7 linked regions of the Homo sapiens genome follow. The protein of the gene in region 6 purifies or fractionates together with the protein of the main gene of each other region. This does not show direct contact. Each region holds a gene or a part of one and is shown on either strand. Other genes may lie near its edges. The genes, in order: STON2, GAP43, AIDA, CTH, CSNK1G3, SLC25A41 and CTSH.

What was found.
Region 1: the proteins of SLC25A41 (region 6) and STON2 purify together in Homo sapiens (affinity purification with mass spectrometry; 3 studies listed by BioGRID and IntAct, with this or other methods). This does not show direct contact.
Region 2: the proteins of SLC25A41 (region 6) and GAP43 purify together in Homo sapiens (affinity purification with mass spectrometry; 3 studies listed by BioGRID and IntAct, with this or other methods). This does not show direct contact.
Region 3: the proteins of SLC25A41 (region 6) and AIDA purify together in Homo sapiens (affinity purification with mass spectrometry; 3 studies listed by BioGRID and IntAct, with this or other methods). This does not show direct contact.
Region 4: the proteins of SLC25A41 (region 6) and CTH purify together in Homo sapiens (affinity purification with mass spectrometry; 3 studies listed by BioGRID and IntAct, with this or other methods). This does not show direct contact.
Region 5: the proteins of SLC25A41 (region 6) and CSNK1G3 purify together in Homo sapiens (affinity purification with mass spectrometry; 3 studies listed by BioGRID and IntAct, with this or other methods). This does not show direct contact.
Region 7: the proteins of SLC25A41 (region 6) and CTSH purify together in Homo sapiens (affinity purification with mass spectrometry; 3 studies listed by BioGRID and IntAct, with this or other methods). This does not show direct contact.

Annotation. Positions count from the first base shown.
Region 1 is NC_000014.9:81,278,325-81,281,824, forward strand, and holds part of STON2 (stonin-2), read right to left. Parts: intron 416-3,500; coding exon 1-415. UniProt on the Homo sapiens protein: Adapter protein involved in endocytic machinery. Involved in the synaptic vesicle recycling. May facilitate clathrin-coated vesicle uncoating.
Region 2 is NC_000003.12:115,719,747-115,721,983, forward strand, and holds the end of GAP43 (neuromodulin), read left to right. Parts: intron 1-1,047; coding exon 1,048-1,136; 3' UTR 1,137-1,737; downstream 1,738-2,237. UniProt on the Homo sapiens protein: This protein is associated with nerve growth. It is a major component of the motile 'growth cones' that form the tips of elongating axons. Plays a role in axonal and dendritic filopodia induction.
Region 3 is NC_000001.11:222,677,992-222,681,491, reverse strand, and holds part of AIDA (axin interactor, dorsalization-associated protein), read left to right. Parts: intron 1-3,500. UniProt on the Homo sapiens protein: Acts as a ventralizing factor during embryogenesis. Inhibits axin-mediated JNK activation by binding axin and disrupting axin homodimerization. This in turn antagonizes a Wnt/beta-catenin-independent dorsalization pathway activated by AXIN/JNK-signaling.
Region 4 is NC_000001.11:70,414,268-70,417,767, forward strand, and holds part of CTH (cystathionine gamma-lyase), read left to right. Parts: intron 1-1,688; coding exon 1,689-1,770; intron 1,771-3,500. UniProt on the Homo sapiens protein: Catalyzes the last step in the trans-sulfuration pathway from L-methionine to L-cysteine in a pyridoxal-5'-phosphate (PLP)-dependent manner, which consists on cleaving the L,L-cystathionine molecule into L-cysteine, ammonia and 2-oxobutanoate.
Region 5 is NC_000005.10:123,613,177-123,615,362, reverse strand, and holds part of CSNK1G3 (casein kinase I isoform gamma-3), read right to left. Parts: intron 1,022-2,186; coding exon 967-1,021; 3' UTR 1-966. UniProt on the Homo sapiens protein: Serine/threonine-protein kinase. Casein kinases are operationally defined by their preferential utilization of acidic proteins such as caseins as substrates. It can phosphorylate a large number of proteins. Participates in Wnt signaling.
Region 6 is NC_000019.10:6,430,964-6,434,909, forward strand, and holds the start of SLC25A41 (mitochondrial carrier protein SCaMC-3L), read right to left. Parts: upstream 2,801-3,946; 5' UTR 2,731-2,800; coding exon 2,524-2,730; intron 1,242-2,523; coding exon 1,086-1,241; intron 1-1,085. UniProt on the Homo sapiens protein: Calcium-independent ATP-Mg/Pi exchanger that catalyzes the electroneutral exchange of Mg-ATP or free ADP against an hydrogenphosphate and participates in the net transport of adenine nucleotides across the mitochondria inner membrane.
Region 7 is NC_000015.10:78,931,547-78,935,046, forward strand, and holds part of CTSH (pro-cathepsin H isoform a preproprotein), read right to left. Parts: coding exon 3,432-3,500; intron 913-3,431; coding exon 826-912; intron 496-825; exon of another isoform or gene 51-495; coding exon of another isoform or gene 1-50. UniProt on the Homo sapiens protein: Important for the overall degradation of proteins in lysosomes.

The sequences.
Region 1 (3,500 bases), on a different chromosome or scaffold from region 6:
TTGATAGGGGAGGGCTGTACATCCTGCAGAGTCTCATTCAGGAAAGGGTTGGTTGCCCTCCAAGGTGAAGCCTCAGTTACAGAAGGCGTGCGGTTTAAAGAGGAAATATCCAGCTTCTGAACTTTGGAGAAGTTCATCAAAGTGCTCTTGGGACGGTCCCTCTTCTTAAATGATCCCATTGAATTATAAGGTACATCTGGGATCACAGATGCACTTGGTGGTGTATTTGGCTTCAGAGGAGAGGTGACTGGTGGTAAAGGGCAGCTGACTTCATTGTCATCAAAGGTGACCCAGCTGGGAAAACGAGCAGAGGTCACTGGAGGGGCAGGGTGCCCATTCATGGCTGGACTGCTGGCCTGCCAGCTGATGGCCTCCATCTCTACTTCTTCATCTTCTTGAAGCGAGGAGGAATTGTCTAAAAGGAAAAGGAGAACATATGAGCTACTGTTCAGGGGCTCTAGAGGTAAGGAAAACTGAAGTATAGGAATGAGGGATTACTAGAATTTTAACTGGAATCCAGTACATTCCAAAGCAGCTCATTATCTGTTTCAAGTGCTTAGTCTGGGCATAGATCTCACAATTCTGTAATGAGCACCCCAGAGGAGCTATCGCATTAAGTGCAATAAGAACCCAATGGCTATATCAATACAGAAGTATTGACTGGTAGTACCAAGGTCTCTTGCAATTTATATACTCTTCCTTATTTTATAAAAGCTTCTGGAATAGATGTGTTCTGTACTTAGCTTTGAGGAATGTGTTCTTAATTTTTAAACATTGAAAGCCATCTCCTATATAAAATGATATAAGCTCATCTCACTGAAAAAAACCAAGTTATCGTCTGTAAGTGATAATATGATTATAAATAATATTCTTGGAGGGATTTTAGCCTAAACATAATGAATAAATATTAAAGACAAACAGTTAACCTTCTTAATATTCAGTAGGTTCATACATGTGAATAAGAAAAACACAAAAACCCCAAAAGAAGTCTGAGTAAAGAACATAGACAACTCATGAAAGAGAAACTAAAAAATGTCTAGTAAGTATGTGAAAAATATCGAATCTCACTAGTAATAAGAAAAATGGCCGGGCACAGTGGCTCATGCCTGTAATCCCAGCACTTTGGGAGGCCGAGGTGGGCAAATCACGAGGTCAGGAATTCGGCACCAGCCTGGCCAACGTGGTGAAACCCAATGTCTACTAAAAATACAAAAAAATTAGCTGGGCGTAGTGGCAGGCACCTGTTATCCCAGCGGCTTGGGAGGCTGAGGCAGGAGAATCACTTGAACCCAGGAGGCAGAGATAGAAGTCAGCGGAGATTGTGCCACTGCACTCCAGCCTGGGCAACAGAGCGAGACTCTGTCTCAAAAATGAAAAATGAAAAAAAAAAAATCAGTGAAGATTTTGAAAGATTTTAGTGCTCAATGAGGGTAAAGGTGCCATAATAGGAGCACTAAGTGGATGCTTAGTGAAACTAAGTTGCAACAGATGCTCTGAAAAGAGATTGGGCAATTTATATTAAGGATCTTAACACATGTTAATAAACAATGACTTAGTAATTCTACCCTAAGAAAATAAATCTAAATTATGAACCAAGTTTGAAGAACAGAGATGTCCATTTTGGCATTATTTATAATAGGGAAAAATATTTTAAATATTCAACAATTGGGTGAGTGTTAAGAAATTGAAGCCTACAATAAAATAATACCCACCCACTAAAATGTTTACAAGTAGGCAGTATATCAGGAGAAAATGCTCATGATATAATCTCCTTTTTTTCTCTAAAATATTTTTCCATCTCGAAGTTTATTTTTTATGATAAAAAGGTTATTACAAATAAAACTCCACTTTAGCAGGGCCTTCAAGGAAAGAGATACAGGACTTGGGTTTGATGAGGGCAAGATCTAAACTTTTTCAGTAACCTAAGGACCGTGGGTATCTGCTGGGGCTGTGGGAAGGGAGGGGAAATGAGGCTTTTAGCAAGGAGGAATGAATTCTGATGAAGGAACAGCACAGACAACAAATGTGTGCATATAGTAGGTACTCAATAAGGTTTTTTGATTAAATAAGTGAGAAAAGAAACTTTGCTTTAGAGTAGCTCTTCCATTCTCTACGTCTCTGCAGGAATGGGTATAGGGGATCTCTGCTACCATCCTACCCACTGTTTCTATGGCCAGTTGTTTGGAATCAAAGGGAAATGGATACTCAAATGACTGAGTTTTCTGACCACCTCACTACATCTTCATGCATATCACATCCAACCACACCCATCAGCAATGCCGCACATAATTGCACATAATTATACAAGGATGGGATGCTGGCTTGTCACCCATCTTTCCAAGTAATTTATTCAAACAGATAGCAATTCTCTCAAATGAAAACGTAAGTTTGAAAATGTAGGCTAGGCCGGGCACGGTGGCTCATGCCTGTAATCGCAGCACTTTGGGAGGCCGGGACGGGCAGATCACTTGAGGTCAGGAGTTCAAGACCAGCCTGGCAAAAATGGTGAAACCCTGTCTCTACTAAAAATACAAAAATTAGCTGGGCGTGGTGGCACAAGCCTGTAATCCTAGATATTCGGGAGGCGGAGGCAGGAGAAGTGCTTGAACCTGGGAGACAGAGGTTGCAGTGAGCCGAGATGGCGCTACTGCACTCCAGTCTGAGCGATAGAGCGAAACTCCGTCTCAAAAAAAAAAAAAAAAGAAAAGAAAAGAAAATGTAGGCTGTAGGCTAAACACGAGTATGCATATACATATACACATATCCATACCCACCCCAGAAACAAAATGAGCGAAAAGCATTTTCTATATCTACAGTGACTAAAAAGGATTCTAAAGCATTTTTAAATTAAAGATGAGAATCTCCTTCAAATTAAGCATGAATCCAGTTTTGTATAAGTGATTAATTTTCTGAAAATCGAAGGGAAAACGGTCAGGAAACAACCTACACTTACAGTATTTATATTTTATTTATCATTTTGGTAACAAAGTCTAAAAGGAACATTGTGGTCCTGAGTGAAATATAATCACTTCCTTGGAATGGTAATTGATCCTGTCTAGAGAACTGGGAAAGGGGTACATCTCAAAACTCATCAACTTCTAATGAGGCAGCTCTAGAGAGCCTTTGTGATGTAGTGTTTCCACCCAAACAATCTCTATTGGCCCACCCCTGGCATCAGGGTTATCCTTTTTGTCTTGGAGCTCACCCTGTAGTTTAAAACAAGCTGAAGTCCTTTTTCTTTGGAGGGCGGCTTTCTGCCAAAGCTGTTTACACTTGCCACCAAAGGATTCCCTTCTGTTGGGAATCTTGTCCTCAAAACAGCCCTTCTCATCTTCTAAGCCAAAAATGAAAAGAGAAAAAAAGGCCTTTGTCCCTACTGAAGATCATTTTCTTACAATAAATTCCTTTTCAAACCAAGTTAGTTTAAATCACGCCAAGTCCTAAACAGTTTTGAAGCATTAGAGTTATAATACAAATTAAACAAGTGTCTTTAAATTTGA
Region 2 (2,237 bases), on a different chromosome or scaffold from region 6:
CATGCTGAGTCCCATGAGTCCTCCTAGCAAATCACTGAACCTAGGGGTGGTCTTGGGGGACACTGACACAGGGAGTTGATTGTTTGGCAACACAAGTTGTTTCAGAGCAAATGAATTCTTTTTCCACAAGCTAGCATATTAGTAAACTATCAGGGAGCATAAAATCAGTTGACTGAGTTCTGTCGGGAAACAAAGGGAAAATTTTTCTTCAAAAAGACATGATATCCTCCCTGTTAAGCAAAGCAGTACTTTCCCTGTGGATAAGTGTATTCAGTTGGAATGTGCTTGGCTGCAAGAAACTGAAAACTATTATATTACAATGCTTTAAAGAGGCTAGTGACTTGTTTCTGAGGGAAAGATATCTAGGAGTGGTACAGTCACTCAGTGATGATTTTTTCTTTTTGCTCCACCATCCTTAGTGTATAGTTTTTGTCTTCATGGTCACAAGGCAGCTGCTACAGTGCCATGTATTGTTTGATGTCCAAGTGATCAGGAATAGGAGAATGTGAAGGGCAAAACCCAACTCTGCCCTCTCTAGGGACTTCAATTTCTATATAATTGACTAGCACTGTCCCACAGGAGCTGAAAATTCAACTACTTCACTTTTCAATACTGGAAATGAGTGGTAAGAAACTTGGACTAGATGATCGATGGTCCACATAAATTATCTGTCACAATTCTTCTGACACTAATAGAACAGCAATACAAGATTGTCGTTGATTCCCTATGTGAAGATCCTGTATGTGGATACCTTGATTGTAAGGCTGAGAGATTAAAGACCATAGTAACTTTTGTTAAGTGGTCTCCTTGTCACTCACATACCTTTGCTCCTGAGTTCTTCCATAGGTGCCACTGAACAGCTTCCTTGAGGTAAACTCTTCTGAACTTGTAACCTACATTAACTGGGATATTAATAATCTCTTTTAATCTTAATGCTCTTATGAAATGACATAAAAAGAAGAAATGCATTGCACTGTTGTATGAGCAGATAAGACAAAATACTAATTCTCTCCTTTTCCCCCCATCCTATCTTGTTTTCTTTCTCAGAAGCTGTAGATGAAACCAAACCTAAGGAAAGTGCCCGGCAGGACGAGGGTAAAGAAGAGGAACCTGAGGCTGACCAAGAACATGCCTGAACTCTAAGAAATGGCTTTCCACATCCCCACCCTCCCCTCTCCTGAGCCTGTCTCTCCCTACCCTCTTCTCAGCTCCACTCTGAAGTCCCTTCCTGTCCTGCTCACGTCTGTGAGTCTGTCCTTTCCCACCCACTAGCCCTCTTTCTCTCTGTGTGGCAAACATTTAAAAAAAAAAAAAAAAAGCAGGAAAGATCCCAAGTCAAACAGTGTGGCTTAAACATTTTTTGTTTCTTGGTGTTGTTATGGCAAGTTTTTGGTAATGATGATTCAATCATTTTGGGAAATTCTTGCACTGTATCCAAGTTATTTGATCTGGTGCGTGTGGCCCTGTGGGAGTCCACTTTCCTCTCTCTCTCTCTCTCTGTTCCAAGTGTGTGTGCAATGTTCCGTTCATCTGAGGAGTCCAAAATATCGAGTGAATTCAAAATCATTTTTGTTTTCCTCCTTTTCAATGTGATGGAATGAACAAAAAGGAAAAAATTCAAAAAACCCAGTTTGTTTTAAAAATAAATAAATAAAGCAAATGTGCCAATTAGCGTAAACTTGCGGCTCTAAGGCTCCTTTTTCAACCCGAATATTAATAAATCATGAGAGTAATCAAGGTCCAATGGCTCTGTGTTTCTGTTCTACCTTCTCATTAGTTGGTTGGACATGCTAGGGTCTTACATTTTCATCTTTTTCTTCTCTCAGTTTTACATCAGCAACCCTGATAAAGAAAACACAGATGAAGCCTAAGGCTCTGGTCAAGACCAATAGCTCCGGCCCTCGAGGGAGACATCTGTTGCAGGCCTGTCTCTTTGGCTTATGGGTGGCTATCTTTTAACTGTGCCTCTTCACATCTTCCCTTTATGCCTGTCTTTGTGTCCAAATTTCCCCATTTTGTAAAGATACTAGTGATACTGAGTTGGGCCCACCCTAATGACCTCACTTTAACTTAATTGCCTCTGTCAAAGCCTCATTTTTAAATGAGGTCACATTCTGAGGTACTGGAGCTTAAGGCTTCAACATATAAATTTGGGGGATAGGGCACAATTCAGCCCATAAGAGACACTAATTTATGACCAGTGTATCCAACATGGTGAAACCCTATCTTTACAAAAA
Region 3 (3,500 bases), on a different chromosome or scaffold from region 6:
GAGTTTCACCATGTTGGCCAGGCTGATCTCAAACTCCTGACCTCAGGTAATCCACCCACCTTGGCCTCCCAAAGTGCTGGGATTACAGGTGTAAGCCACCATGCCCGGCCAATTTTCAAAACATTCTTGAGTGAACTGGTCTTTGTTGAATAAACTTAGCCATTTCTCTGATACCTAGAACCAGTTTTCATTTTATTTGTGAGAATTTTGATAGCAGCACTTCAGTGAAGAAAGCCATGAGTTGACAGTGTCAGCGTTTTCTGTTTGACACCACAGTGTACAGCCCAGGGCAGTTCCTCAGAGGTACACGTGAGGACAGGGCGTGAAATCCAGCTTGGCCTTTGCTTGTTTGGGGACTTCACAGCAGAAACAGTTTTCTTGAGTACACCATTCTTTATAGACCTTACAAATGCTATAGCATGTCATTTATTGGTAAAATTTTTAGACTCAATAGAGAAGCTTTTTTTTTATAGTTTATCACAAAACCTCTTCAGGATATGAAAAGTCATCTCTTGTGTCCACTTATTGCGCGGTTTGGGAATAGAGCCTTTTAAATTTCTTATACTATATCTTGTGCTAAAAACGTCTTGTAATTTCACATGCAGGCATTATGAGATCCTTGCCCACTGTGTGACTTTTCTTCCTCTGGGCATTAAGCTCTGCTACTAAGTAATTTCCTTTTTGAGCCTTTTTTAAGTGAACATTACTTTAGAAAAAAAAAAAGCTTTACTCTATTTTAAATGGCCATTAGGATATCAAAATAATCGGTGTCTTTACTTATCAATGGTTGTGACTTGTAGTTGCGATTTCTCGATTTTGTTGGATCCATTGCTGCATTGATAAAGTGTTTTTCACAGATGAGGCAACTTGGAAATTATCCATCCAGGTACAACCATATTAATAAGTAGGTCTCATCATTAAATGGACTTTTTTGTTTTTCCCAGTGCACTAGTGCAGTGAAATGATTCAGAAGCTTGAAATTCATTGTTTTTACTTAGGGAGAATTGTCTCTATGCTTAGGCTTAGAACCTTCCTCTCCTAGCTCATACCTCTTCTTTAGAAATCACATTGAATTGAAAAATTTCCTCCAGTTTTCTTTGCTACAAGTAGAGCATGTTTGCTTCAGCTGTTGGTGCATAAGGGAAGGTTGGGGCAGGTAAAGCTGAAGAGGCTGACGTCAGACTGCTGTATAGAGCTCATCAGCTACCAGTGGCTTCCCCTGTCTCCTGAAAAAAAAAATACTAAATGGACCAAGTCAAGTGAACATAATCTTAACTGCTTACTGCCATATGAGGCTCAAAGACCTATAATAAAATTGCTATAGGGGCTGCATAGTCTCTTTCCATCACTGTGAACCTGCATTGCTCAGTGTACAAAGCCCATTGCAGGGGCTGCAGATGGTGTAGTATTATCCTCGTATTTTATTGTCTTTAGTGCATATTTAAAGGCAGTGCATTGATAGAAATCACTCTTTTGCGTGGAGCTCCTAGCGAGTTCAGGGACACCCTGGGATTCCACAGAACCCAGGTTGAGAAATCTTGATTTAGACAGTTGTAGCCATACAGAGCTTTTCATATTTAGAAGTGTGAGGCAGAAATAATGCATCCCTTCCCAAAGATGTCCACATCCCAATCCTCAGAATCTGTGCATATGTTTCTTACATTACACGGCAACAGAGACTTTGCAGATGTGATTATGTGAAGGACCTTGAGATGGGGAGGTCATTTCACAGCTCCTGTGTAGGCTCTATGGACAATGAAGAAATGGCCAAATGAGGTGTGGTGGTTACAAGCATGGAATCCCGTGCCAAACTGCTATATGATTGTGGGCAGATTACTTAACTTTTCTGTCTTAGTTTTCACTTCTGAAAAAATGGGACACCTTGTTATAGGGTGCTATAGCACCTGTGTTATAGGGTTGTTGGGAGGATTAAATGAGTTAGTACATGTAAAGGATTAGAACAGTGCCTGGCACACCCTGACATGTTCTGTAAAAGTTGGCTGTTTATTATTTATGCAGCTTTTCCATATGGAAGAACATTTATTATTTCTGATCCTCACTTTAGATCTAACAGCAAATGATCTAGCTGGAAACACGCAGTTTTTCATGGCTCATGTATGATTTCTTTTCTTACTTCAGTTACAGTCTTCAAGTTTTATAAATGTAGTTACTTATTCTCATATTACTCTATACAGTTGAATGTGTTCATTCTTCTTTTAGAAATCTTGCTTTTAATACATTGCCTTGATTTTTAATTATTGTATGTTTTTATCTTTGATACACAAATATGTTAACTTTTTCATCTAACCCTGGAATGGTGTGGTATTATCCTAGTATTTTATCTTCTTTCGTGCATATTATATAAGGCAGTACATTGATATATGTTTTCAGGCCACATGTTTATAGAGCATAATAACCTCTAGAACTGTAAAATTCATTTATCATTCAACAAATGATAAAAGAGTTCTAAAACAAAGATCTCTTTATTACTAGTGAAAACAATACAAAAATGAACAGTTACTCATCCCGTCTTTCAGGATGCTCACCATGTAAGACAGAGCCAAAAAAAGTACATCATCATGGTTAGAGGTGGACACAGTATATTATGAGTGAACGAAAAAAGGACTGACAGAGTTTAGCAAAGGTAATCTAGCCAGAACTGAGACTCAAAGGGAGTGTAGGAGTTGACTAGGCAGGGAGAGAGCACATTAGAAACCACTGAGAAATACACCTTTCTCTATTACCTGTCGTCTTAATCACATAGCTTCAGCTGTTCCTTAGTAAAGATAAAACTACTGAACCTTCATGGTGGAGATGAAATGTTTTATGTTCTACCTTGAATTAGGGAAGAACTGAATAAATTAAGTATCTTTCCAGCTTGGAATCACTGCCTCCATATTACATTGTTAGAAATATATTTAGTAGTTAGATTAAACCTTATTATATTCTCAGGCAAAAAAAAAGTTTGTTGGTAAGGAAGAAAGAAATGTCAGCCTCATTATTTCAACTAAAAGATCTAGACAATTACAGGTTATGAAACTGATTCACCTAAAGGTAGAAGAATTTTTAATGTTTACTTGGGAGAAAATAGTCTATCATAAAAAGAACTTGTCTCTTTTGTCTGTCAGAAAACACCATAATCAAAATCAAAATGACAAACGACTAATATTCTTAATATATAAAGAAAATTTTAAGTTGTGACAACAAAGACCCCAAACACATTAGAAAATTGGGCAAAAGACATGAACAGATAGTACACACACACACACACACACACACACACACACACACCCCAAGATATACAAATAGCTCTTAAATGTATTAGAAGATACTCAACTTTACATATGATAAAAGACATGCAGATGCCTTATATGGCAGTTCCCTGTTGCTGAGACAACAGGGAAATGGGCTCATTTATCACTGGTGGGAATAGAAAGTGGTAATAGTCCCTTTAAAGGAGAGTTCAGCAATAGCTCAGCAACAACAAAAATATACAATTT
Region 4 (3,500 bases), on a different chromosome or scaffold from region 6:
CTTTCGGAGGCTGAGGCGGGTGGGTCATGAGGTCAGGAGATGAAGACCAACCTCCCCAACGTAGTGAAACCCCATCTCTACTAAAAAAGTACAAAAATTAGCTGTGTGTGGTGGCGTGCCTGTAGTCCCAGCTACTCTGGAAGCTGAGGCAGGAGAATCGCTTGAACCCGGGAGGTGGAGGTTGCGCCACTGCACTCCAGCCTGGCAACAGAGCGAGACTCCCTTTCAAAAAAAAAAAAGTCTGCTCAACTTGTCATAAACAAGGGCACATAGCAACAAAACTTTTAGAAGTTATTGTTGTTAATACTGGGAGCTTCTGAATCAGAAACAAAGGTGAAAGAGTGGTTGTGTTTTGTTATGTTATGTGAAGCAGAGGGAGAAAATTATAGGACTTCTAATTAATGTTCGAATCCTTGGTTCACAATCCGGTTTTGACACTCCCTAGGTACTATTGCATTTGGCTTCACTTTCCTCAAAGCCAGTCATAAGGATTAGTAGAATGACTGGATGAATATAGCTAGCAGGGTGCCATATATGTAAAAGGAGAATAATGCAATTTTTTTTTTTCCCGAGACAGAGTCTCGCTCTGTTGGCCAGCCTGGAGTGCAGTGGCACTATCTCGGCTCACTGCAACCTCCGCATCCTGGGCTCAAGCAATTCTCCTGCCTCAGCCTCCCGAGTAGCTGGGATTATAGGAATGCAAATTTTTAAAAAGTATTGTGTGGAGCTGTTTTGCCAGGAATTGCTCCCTATGCTTTGAGCCACTTTTGTAGAGCCAAGATGTGAATGAATGTTGAGCATTGGTAGGATGTGATCATAACTTCCTGTTGTATGCTAAATAGAACTTGAATCAGCCTGACAGATGGCTCACTCCTGTAATCTCAGCACTTTGGGAGACCAATGTGGGAAGATTGCTTGAGGTCAGGAGTTCAAGACCAGCCTGGGCAACATAGCTAGACTGCCTCTACAAAAAATAAAATTAAAATATTTGTTAGGCATGGTGACATGCACCTGTAGTCTTAGCTACTCAGGAGGCTGAGATCGGAGGATTGCTTAAGCCCAGGAGTTTGAGGCTGCAGTGAGCTATGATTGCCCCACCGTACTCTAGCCTGGGCAACAGAGTGAGGTCCTATCCTTAAAAAAAAAAACTTGTATCACTTAATCATTTATTTCTTAGGAAATGAAATACAGGTTAGAATTAGGTTTATTCTGTTGGCTCATGCAAGTCCCTTTTCCTAATGTTTCCAGATTAATGAAAAAAGGTGAGTCTAACATAATAAACATACTAATAATAAAAACTGTCATTTATTTAGTGATTAGCATGTGCCAGGAAACATGTAGTGAATTTGTGCATTATCTCATTTTATCTTCACAACAATTTTATGAACCAGATATCTGTATTTTATTCCCATTTTACAGATATTGAGATTGACTCTTGGAAATGTGAAGTAACTTACCTAGTGTCATGCAGCTCATAAGTGGCAGATACAGAATTCACATAGAGTTTGTTTGACTTCAGAGCATCTTGACTATAGCCACAGCACTGTTCTGCTTCTGTATTAAAGCAAGACATATCATGACTAAAGAATAGAAACTAATTATGGTAGGGTGAAACTATAGTTCTCTATGTTAGGACTCTGATAATAAACTGAAATCTCTTAGGATGAACTCGAACTTGTTTTTTTCAGGGTTTTGAATATAGCCGTTCTGGAAATCCCACTAGGAATTGCCTTGAAAAAGCAGTGGCAGCACTGGATGGGGCTAAGTACTGTAAGTAATTTCCATTTCACAGTCTAGAATCTATTTTTAAATGTATAGAGAAAACCATAGAGGCACAGAATGTGGAACTGAAAAGAAACAGATTTGCTAGTTCAAAATTCCTGTTCTACTGCCTTTGAATTCTTTGCCCAAGGTCCCTCAGTTGGTATAATATGCATATGTGTAATCATCAGGTAAAAATACGTATGAATAGAGGACAAATGAATAAAGGAAAAAATTCACACGAATACTACATTTATTAATACTACATTTATCATGTAGTATTCATGTGAAAACAATCTTCATCTGAAACTGTCAGTATAAATAAATAAATGGAAATTAAATTTAATAACACCACCTATTAGAATATAAAATCTTTTTTTGAGACAGGGTCTCTCATTCTGTTGCTCAGGCTGGAGTGCAGTGGCACAATCTCTGCTCATTGCAACCTCCTCCTCCAGGATTCAAGCGATTCTCCTGCCTCAGCCTCCTGAGTGGCTGGGATTGCAGGTGTGCACCACCACACCCTGCTAATTTTTTTTTTTTTTTTTTTTTGAGACAGAGTCTTGCTCTTGTCGCTCAGGCTGGAGTGCAATGGCAGGATCTCGGCTCACTGCAACCTCCGCCTCCTGGATTCAAGCAATTCTTCTCCTTCAGCCTCCCAAGTAGCTGGGATTACAGGTGCCTGCCACCACGCCCAGCTAATTTTTTGTATTTTTAGTAGAGATGGGGTTTCACCATGTTGGCCAGGCTGGTCTCGATCTCCTGACCTCGTGATCTCCCGCCTTGGACTCCCAAAGTGCTGGGATTACAGGAGTGGGCCACCACGCCCAGCCTTTTTTTTGTATTTTTAGTAGAGATGGGGCTATTTTGGCCAGGCTGGTCTGGAACTCTTGGGCTCAAGTGATCTGCCCACCTCGGCCTCCCAAAGTGCTGGGATTATAGATGTGAGCCACCACACTTGGCCTAAACTTGCTTATCCTCTGGTTTATTCACCTAATAATTTGTGCCTGAGAATAGCACTAAAGTTATTTTCAGTGGTCAATAACTCCTGATAATGTGCTGTCAGAGATTAGAGATTAACTCCCTAAACTTTTTTTTTTAATGAAGAGAGTCTTGTGTATTCATTGTGATTACACTTATCAGACAAATCTCAGGTCTGATTGCGAGTTTTGTTAAAATATTTACTGAATTGCATATTCATATAATTAACGTATGAATCATATCTTTGCTCTATTCTTTATGTTTGAAATTTCTCTTTTCTTTCTTTTTTTTTTGATATGGAGTCTCCCTCTGTCACCCAAGCTGGAGTGCAGTGGTGCAATCTTGGCTCACTGCAACCTCCACCTCCTGGGTTCAAGCGATTCTCCTGCCTCAGTCTCCCTCGTAGCTGGGATTACAGGCATGTGCCACCATGCCTGGCTAATTTTTGTATTTTTAGTAAACACAGAGTTTCACCCTGTTGGCCAGGCTGGTCACGAAATCTTGACCTCAAATGATCCACCTGCCTTGGGCTCCCAAAGTGCTGGGATTATAGGCATTAGCCACCACGCCTGCCCTGAAATTCCTTTAGTTTGCTATTTTTAAACTGTAGTTTAACTGGCAATAGGCCTTTTATCTCAGATATTTGTAAAGAATTATTTTCTTGAAGTGTTTCAGAGAAATATTATTACCAAGGCAAAATTGACTTAACACAAAAGTATCTGTCCACATTATATATTTTTTATTTTAAAGATATCTTA
Region 5 (2,186 bases), on a different chromosome or scaffold from region 6:
ACATCCAAAGTTTTCTGCTTAAGGGAGAATGTAATCATTCAGCAGTAAGTTTCGGTGAGATTTCTTTAGGCTTCCACCTTATACACTGCAACAAGGTTCACATTTACTACCTCTCCTTAGTGTATTTCTTTATAACTCCAACATACATCACTTTTTAAAGTATTCATTTCTTGCTGTCTAACATACATTATTATTTGGAAGCATAAAGTTACATTGTACAAATATTTTGCATTTTTAAAAATAAGCGCTTTTGCCACTTCTGCAACACAGTACTTCACATAGTGATGCAACAAAAGCGGAGCACATATTTACCACACTCCTTAAGATTCATTTTACCACCACCATCTGCCGAACCCATATTGCTTTTTCCTCAGTACCTCTGGGCAGTGACTGTACCATGATTTCACGGAGAGAATGTTAATATGACTTATGAATAACAGTACCATCAGTAATACTGAAATCAATGCAGATGTCACAAAATATGAACTTCTCAAGGAATAACTTCTTTTAAATATTTGGGCAACTCTGTTTTCTCTGTTGTATTATCCACTGAGAAAAGAAAATTCCTGTTTGATTATGCTCTTACAGAAGTTATAAAAAACCAGATTAGGTATATAACTGGTTGACACTTAAGATACTGTACTGCTTTCTACAACAGAAGAACTTCTGGAAAATGTTCTATGGAACTATATTCATTGATACCACCTCATTGGTCCATTCCATTCACTGATGGGCAAAGCACTCATGTTTTGACAAAACTTTAAAGCTTCCATAAAGGTTAAATTAGAGAAAAAAAAAAAAAGAAAAAGAATGTAAGACAACCACAAAATGAAGTATGAAAGTATGACATTTTTGTTTCTAAGAGTGAGTCCTTGAAAATATACGTGGTCACTACAGAGATGATTTTAATCACAAGACAGCAGATGAACATGTAAGTAACTCCCCAGGATCTGTCTGTGTCCAGAGTCATTTGTGGCGCTGTATGGTTTTCCTTTTCCTTCGTTTGAAAAAACAGCAGCACCTGCAGATGAGGGAAACACTCTTTTTATTTTAAAAGCACTAAAATATCACAAAGTTGACTGTATCACTTTAACTTAAATGATCATAAAAAGCAACAGGCTAGTGCAAGATAAACAGTGATTACACCAATGAAGCATACGTATTAGTGAAAATATGGCAGAGCTATTACTATTATGTTTCATTCACATGCCTTTTAAGAATAGCAAGACATTCTATGCAACATAAAAAGGAGCCATTAAATTCAAAAGGTTTTTCACTAAGAGTAATTAAGAATTTCATTCTATGCATTCTCACCCTTTCTCCCTGATATTTATATGTGACTGTTGAAGCCATTAGGAAGGCAATAATGATCCTAACATTGGGGAGTTTATTCTCACCAATAATCAGTTTAGACTCCAAAAATAAAAAGACACTCCAATATACACTAGTCAACATTTTCCATCATATTAAAAAAGTGAAAGACAGAAAATACATTATATAGAATACCAAGACTGGCAATTTTGAATTCTTTAAGGGTTAAAGAAGGTCAAGCTTATTGAAAGTTTAGTTAAGGTAAAAACTATGCTTAATATTTAAAGTAGCACAATTGAGGTGATTCCATTTTACAAGTCAAAACTGTATATGCAAAAAAATATAATACTGACTTTTATTTCTAGGTGAAAAAAAATCTTGGCTGGGCACAGTGGCTCATGCCTGTAATCCCAGCACTTTGAGAGGCCGAGGCAGGAGGATTGCTTGAGCTCAGGAGTTTAAGAATTCAAGACCAGCCTGGACAATACAGCAAGACCCCATCTCTAAATATCTCTCTCTCTCTAACTACATATACACATACACAAATATCTCTAAATATATATATACACACATACATATATAAATGTACACACATATATTATATTATACATACATACGCACACACACACACACACACACATGCACTGGACATGGTGGCACCCGCCTGTTACCCCATCTCCTTGAGAGGCTGAGGCAGGAGGAATGTTTGATCTATGATTGTGCCACTGAACCCCAGTCTGTGTGACAGGGCAAGACCCTGTCTCTAAAAGAGGAGATGAACACATCAAGGCTGCTGTGGGAAAATGCTGTGGTCTGGTATGAACTGAAAAAATCACTGATCTGCTCCCACCAAAAAAAAAAAAGAAAAAAATTAA
Region 6 (3,946 bases):
CTACCATGGCAGGCTAATTTTGTAAAATTTTTTGTATAGATGGGGTCTTACTATGTTGCCCAGGCTGGTCTCAAACTCTTGGGCTCAAGCGATCTTCCCACTTTGGCCTCCCAAAGTGCTGGGATTACAGGTGTGAGTCACCATGCCCGACTCCTTTTTAAATTTTTAATTAATTAATTAATTAATTATTATTTTGTAGAGATGTGGTCTGACTATATTGCCCAGCTGGTCTCAAACTCCTAAGCTCAAGTAATCCTCCCTCCTTGGCCTCCCAAAGTGAGCCACTGCACCCGTTTATTTTTTCAGCCAGGGATCTCGCTCTGTCACCCAGGCTGGAGTTTGTGGCATGATCATGGCTCACTGCAGCCTCCAACTCCTGGGCTCAAGCAATCCTCCTGCCTCAGCCTCCTGAGCAGCTGAGACTATGGGTGTGAGATATCCTGCTTGAGGTAGCTCCAGTTCTATGTTGCCTTTTTTTTTTTTCTTTCTTTTTTGAGACAGAGTCTCACTCTGTTGCCCAGGCTGGAGTGCAGTGATGCAATCTCGGCTCACTGCAACCTCCATCTCCTGGGTTCAAGCAATTCTCCTGCCTCAGCCTCCTATGTAGCTGGGACTACAGGCACGCACCACCATGCCCGACTAATTTTTTTGTATTTTTAGTAGAGACAGGGTTTCGCCATGTTGGCCAGGCTGGTCTCAAACTCCTGACCCCAGATGATCTACCTCCCCTGGGCCTCCCAAAGTGCTGGCATTAGAGGCATGAGCCACTGCACCTGGCCCCTACCTTGTCTTTAAACTCGTCCAAAGACCCCATCCCCAATTCCCTGACCTCCAACCCCCACCTTGGCCCAGCGTTGGTCCCTGTCCCTGGCAAGTTCTCTCAACTCCTCAAACTCGACTCCAAGCCATGTCCACACCAGCTCTATCACCATCCACAACCTCAATCTCAGCTAGTCCAGGAGAGCCCAACTCCAGCCAGCACTCCTATCCTGAACTCCATCCACGTCAACTCCATCTGTCCTCACCCCACGTTCTCCCCAGTGGCTCCAGCGCTGGGTCCCGTCCTCCCCCCAACCCACACAAACCTGCATGTACACCTTGGCTCTGTCCAGAGGTGCCGTGCCCGTGCGAGACACCGCCCCGGCCATAGCTCCTGAGAGTAGAAACTTCCACAAGGCCTCCTTGTTATCCACTTCCAGGACTTCCACGGGGACCATCAGCTGCTCTCCTGTGTCCAGTACCTGCAGGGCAGACCCGGCCCTCCCTCATCCTCAGCCAGGTTGGGGCACCTTCCCCAGACACACATCTAGGGCACCCACCTGGTGAAAGACCCACCCTGTTCCCCCAAGTCTGCATTTTTTTTTTTCGAGACGGAGTCTTGCTCTGCTGCCCAGGTTAGAGTGCAGTGGCACAATCTCAGCTCGTTGCAACCTCCACCTCCCAGGTTCAAGCAGTTCCTGCCGCAGCCTCCTGAGTAGCTGGGATTATAGGCATGCACCACAACACCTAATTTTTTTTTTTTTTTTTTTTTTTTTTTTTAGTAGAGATGGGTTTCACTATGTTGGCCAGGCTGGTCTCTAACTCCTGACCTCAAGTGATTCAACCCTCCCCCCTGGTTTTTTTTTGTTTTGTTTTTGTTTTTTTTTAGACAGAGTCTCACTCTATCGCCCAAGCTGGAGTACAGTGGTGCGATCTTGGCTCACTGCAACCGCTGTCCCCCTGGTTCAAGCGATTCTCGTGTCTCAGCTTCCCAAGTAGGGACAATGGTGTGATCTCGGCTCACTGCAACCTCCGCCTCCTGGGTTCAAGTGATTCTCTTGCCTCAGCCTCCCCAGTAGCTGGGATTACAGTGCCAACGTGCCGAGCAAATTTTTGTATTATTTTAATAGAGGCAGGGTTTCACCATGTTGGCCAGGCTGGTCTTGAACTCCTGACCTCAGGTGATCCACCTGCCTCAGCCTCCCAAAGTGCTGGGATTACAGGTGTGAGCCACCACACCCAGCCAATGTAATATAGACTCTCTAAGTTACTCATGGAGGATCCAAGGAGGAATACAAATGTAATTAGGACTATATCTAGACTCTTAATTTATTCTTATTTTTTGAGACAGAATCTCGCTGTGTTGCTCTGGCTTGAGTGCAGTGATGAGATCTGGGCTCACTGCAACCTCTACCTCCTGAGTTCAAGCGATTCTCCTGCCTCAGCCTCCTGAGTAGCTGGTACTACAGGCGCCAACCACCATGCCTGGCTAAGTTTTGTAATTTTAGTAGAGATAGGGTTTCGGCATGTTGGCCAGGTTGGTCTTGAACTCCTGTCCTCAAGTGACCCATCCACCTCAACCTCCCAAAGTGCTGGGATTACATGTGTGGAGCCATCGCGCCCTGCCTCCCTGCCCCACCCTGCTTCAAGGTGGAATTCTAGGTCCGCTAGCAGGGGAGTGGGCCTGTAGAGGGCGTGGGTAGCCTGGCCTCTCCCTGTAGTCCTGACCAGAGGTGCCGGGACACTGGTGTTTCCTAAACTCACCTGCTGTGACGGGAGATGTTCAAGGTTGTTGTCATGCATGTGGCCAAACGCGTACCCATACACGTGTGTACAGCCAGGGTTCCAGGATGGGGGTGGAGGCGGAGGTTGGGGGGGAGGCGGGGCTTTGATGAGTAAGGTCTTGACCCTCCTAAACAGTGTCTGGATCCTAGAGCAAGTGTTCTGAGGTTCCCCAGGCTGAGCGCCCATGGAGGAAGTTAGGACACCTGGCTTCAAATCCCTAAGCAGTTGTTTGCTGCTCCAGCTACCATGCGGGAGTGTCTAGTGGGAGGATTGTGTGGGGGACCAAGAGGAGGATGAAGTCACAAACGCCCCTGTGACCTTCCTAGGTGTGGTGGGCAGCGTGATGGCCCCCTTCCCCCAAGTATCCACCTCCTGATCCCCCAAACCAATAAATATGTTATCGTTATAAATTGAATTGTGTCCTGTCAAAATTATTATTATTATCGTTTTTTTTGAGACGGAGTCTCGCTCAGTCTCCCAGGCTGGAGTGCAGTGGCGCTATCTTGGCTCACTGCAAGCTCCGCCTCTGGGGTTCACACCATTCTCCTGCCTCAGCCTCCCGAGTAGCTGGGACTACAGGCATCCGCCACCACGCCCAGCTAATTTTTTTATTTTTTAGTAGAGACGGGGTTTCACCGTGTTAGCCAGGATGGTCTCGATCTCCTGACCTCATGATCTGCCCACCTCAGCCTCCCAAAGTGCTGGGATTACAGGCGTGAGCCACTGCTTCCGGCCGCAAAATTCTTATGTTGAAGCCCTATTTCCCAGTGGGTTGGAATTTGGAGACAGGGCCTTTGGGAGGTCCTCAGGGTTAGATGAACTCATGAGGATGGCCCCTGCAAGATGGAATTAGTTCCCTATAAGGAAAAGACAAACCAGAGCTCTTTCTCTCTCTCTGTCTGCCATGGGAGGACGCAGCAAGAAGGCATGGCAGGAAGAAATCCCTCAGCAGGAACTGAGCTAGCCAGCCACCTTAACCTTGGATTTCCCAGCCTCCAGAAATAAATGTCTGCAGTTTAAGACCCCGCTCTTTAGTGTTTCCTTATAGCAGCCTGGGCTGACTTACATTTGTTACATGGCAAAGGGGAATTAAGTTTGCAGATACAAATAAGGTTGCTAGGCCTGATGTGGTGGCTGACGCCTGTAATCCCAGCACTTTGGGAGGCCGAGGTTGGCAGATCATCTGAGGTCAGGAGTTCGAGACCAGCCTGACTAACATAGTGAAACCCAGTCTCTCCTAAAAATACAAAAATTAGCCAGGTTTGGTGGTGTGCCCCTGTAATCTCAGCTACTCTGGAGGCTGAGACAGGAGAATTGCTTGAACCCAGGAGACAGAGGTTGCAGTGGGCCGAGATTGAGCCATTGCACTGCAGCCTGGGCAACAGAGCGAGACTCCATCTCA
Region 7 (3,500 bases), on a different chromosome or scaffold from region 6:
GCCGTCAAGGCTTTGGCGTGAGGCGCTAAGCCTCCCTGGCTGAGCCACATCTGAGGCCCCGTCAGTGCTGTGTCAAGGTGACCAAATTATAAACTCCCCAAGGGCAGGGACAGTTGCTGTATGTCCTGCAGTGCCAGCCCAGCAGCTGGCACATGTCGGGAGGGGCTCAGTAAGCAGGGGCAGCCAGGGAAGGTGAGAGGGGGCAAGGGCTGTTGGGTCCAAACCCCTGCCCCGTAGGTGTGCCCATACGATGCAGAGTGTGGGGTCCCACAGCGGTGTATAGGATGGGGGAAACAGGCCCAGCCAGAGACCCTACCCCCACCTGTCCACAACCCAGGGTCCTCATGGCATCACCAGGCCGGCTGTGCACTGTCCCTCCTTTCTCCACAGAGGCAGGGGCTAGGATAGTTCCTTCAGGGGCATCATCCGTCTCTTGTGGGCGAGGGGATGGATGCATAGGTCCCGGCTCTTCCCTCATGAAGACAACTGAGGCTGCTGGGAAGGGTGTAGCTCCTAGTTGGCTACCCACCAGGCAGGCTCCGCCTTTCTGAACCCCTCCGCCGGGAAGGCTCCAGGCTGTCAAGCTAAGGACCACCCAGATCCATCTAGGAATGAGCCCTTGGGCCGGTTCCTTAATAAACTCAGATCCTTCCCGGGAAAAGCATCAATTGAGATTCTCATGCCAGATGTCCACAAGGCTGGGGCATCTGGGTCCACCTGAAACAGCACCCTTAGCCAATGCTCCAGGGAAACCAAAGGCCCAGGCCTGGCCCACATCAGGATGGGGTGTCCTCCGCAGGGGGTCGCCTGTGGCTGATTTCTTACCAAGGACAGCATCTTTCCGGTTGCGATGGCGATCGCAGACTCCAGGGCCCCAGTGGTGGAGAAAGTCCAGCAACTGCCGCAGGCACCCTGGAAAGGCCAGGGGAGAGCAGAGGACATCAGTGATGGGGACGCCGTGAGACAGCCCTGCCTTCTGCCTTCCTCTGCTGACCCTGCCAGAGCTCCCGAGTCCCCAGGTGCCTTGGCAGTTTACCAAGCCCTGTTCCAGATCCATTCATTCTGAGCCTCGCAGGCCCTGTTCCAGATCCATTCATTCTGAGGCTCGCAAGCCCTGTTCCAGATCCATTCATTCTGAGCCTCGCAAGTCCTGAGAGGCTTGCAAAGGAGCAGGAGCAGCAGGTGGCCTCTGACCAGTGCCTGTGGACTCCCAATCACCACCTCTTGGTGGCCAATCCCCACCATTCTGCCAGGGCCTGGAGTCCCCCACCCCATTCTGCAGTCTTCTGGCTCTCTTCCTTCTCGATCTTCACTGGCTCCTCTTTTCCCTACTGGTTCCCTGCAGAAGGATGCCCCAAAGTTCTGTTTTTAGAACCTTCTCTCACCTTTCCACCTCCAGTCTCTTCTGCCCAGTCCTGTTAAACTAACAGCTCCCCAAACCCTAGCCCAGTGCTGACCTCCACTTAGGCTCAGACATCCAACTAACTGCCAGACAACCCCACCCAGACACCCCTGACACCCCAGACTCTGGGGGACCCGCCCCATCCACCCATTTCCCCACCTTCTAACAGTTCATTGCCGCTGCCTAGCCCCCTTATTCACAACACCTCCAGAATAACATGAGGATTAGGTGTGGGGGGCTGCAGCCTGCCTGCCTGGTTCACATCCCAGCTCTGCCACACACCAGGTGGGTGACCTGGGCAAGTCACTTCCCCTCTCGAAGCCTTGGCTTCATTGCTTGTAAAGTGGGAATGGCGAGGGTTCCTGCTTGCAGGGCGCTAGCAGGGTTAAGTCAGATTCTGCTGGTCAGGCAGTCACCCCCGTGGGCACAATGCTGGTGGCTGCTGTAAGGATTTCTCTCAGGTTCATCTCTGTTTCCTCACCTTGCTGGTTCAGTCTTCCAGCTTCTACTTCTGAAATGTCTCTTAAGTCCCCTACCTGCCTCCCAGGTCATCACCCTAGGTTGACACTGGCCTCACCCAATCTCTTCCCTTCACATATCTCTCTCAGCTGGGGGAGGGAGGGACGGCCTGGTGAGAGGGTCCATGAGACAGTCAACGAGGCAGACGTGGCCACTTCGGGGGAGACTAAGCTCACTGCTGAAGGAGGCGGAGCTCGGCTGACCCTTGGGTGCTCGACTTGGGGCAGGGGCCTGGTTTTGAGTCCCCTTTGTCACTTACTTACCTTGGACCTCAGGCAAACCACCCTCCCTCTCAGGCTCTCCCTCTGTAAAGTGAGAAACTCTCAAGGAGGGTGCTGAGCTGATGGACGCTGTGGCTGCTGTCCGTCTCTATCCCCACACAGCGGCCACAGTAAGAGACGGCACACATCTGCGTCAGGAAGCACCTCATTCCGCTCCCTTAGCCCAGCCGGCTGCGTCCTGCCTGATGGCCCAGGATCAGTTAACAGGAGGACTTGGAAAATTCTTGGTGGGCCTCTCTTTCCCACCTGTCCAAGTGGTGGGCAGGTTTAGGTTACGTGTTGCTCTGAATTGTCATGTGGTTCTCAGAGGGTCTAAAAATGTCACGGGGCAAAGGCAGGCTTCTACTCCACCTCCTGCTGCAAGGGGAGGTTTGCTTTGGCTCCTGATGCTAGTTAAACATCCAGCACTTGGCAGGCTCCAGGAACACTGCAAGCCCGGGAGGCTTTAAAGCTGTGCTGCATGGATGGCTTTTTGGAAAGTGAAAAAACATTTCTCATGGAGAATTTCGATGGAAAGCCAGGAGTTTCCAGGAAGGAAACCTTCACCTCATATTTCCTAGAGTCCAGAGGTCGGCATCCTTCTGAAGAAGGCCACGGCAGGTTCCCTGCTAGGGGAGGGGCCGCAGCAGGCCGGGAGAACAGCGGGGGCAGGGTCCAGACTCTCTGGGACAGGGCCTGTGCTGAGATGCCCCCAGACTGCTCCCCCATGGAGGAAGGCAGGGCCTCTCACCTTGCCAAGCCCTCTGTGCCCCACAGCAAGGGCCACGGAGGCCAGCCCCTGCCATGAGAAGCTTGCTGATGCATGACACATGGACTAACCAGAGGGAGGCGGCCAGCCAGGGCAGGGGCTGGACCCTGGTGGCTCGGAGAAGATGGAGGCGGGAAGAGGAGATGCATGGGGTTCTGGTGTCCAGATGGGCACAGGGAACATAACGTTTTGGATGGCTCTGTAGGAGAGACCTGGGACCAATGGGAAAATCTGGGGCGTGGGGAAGGAAGGGAGTAAACTTTAGCCCAATAAAGAGGAACTTTTGCATCCTCCAGAGCAGCCTAGAGAAGTGCTGACCTCCCTGGCCCCTCAAAGGAAGAGGGCTGGAGAGATGCCGAGAGGAAACAGAGGCAGGGATGTGCTTGTGGTGGTTTTGTGGACCTTTTGAGTTGTTCTTCCTGGTGTATTGTCTGGGAGTGTGGCCGTTTTGCAGGGAGAGGATGGAGATTGCCAGGCATACCTGATTTTTCACAGGTGAGACAAAATTTCCTTTTTTCCGCCAGTCCACGGAAGGTGGGTAGGGACCAGT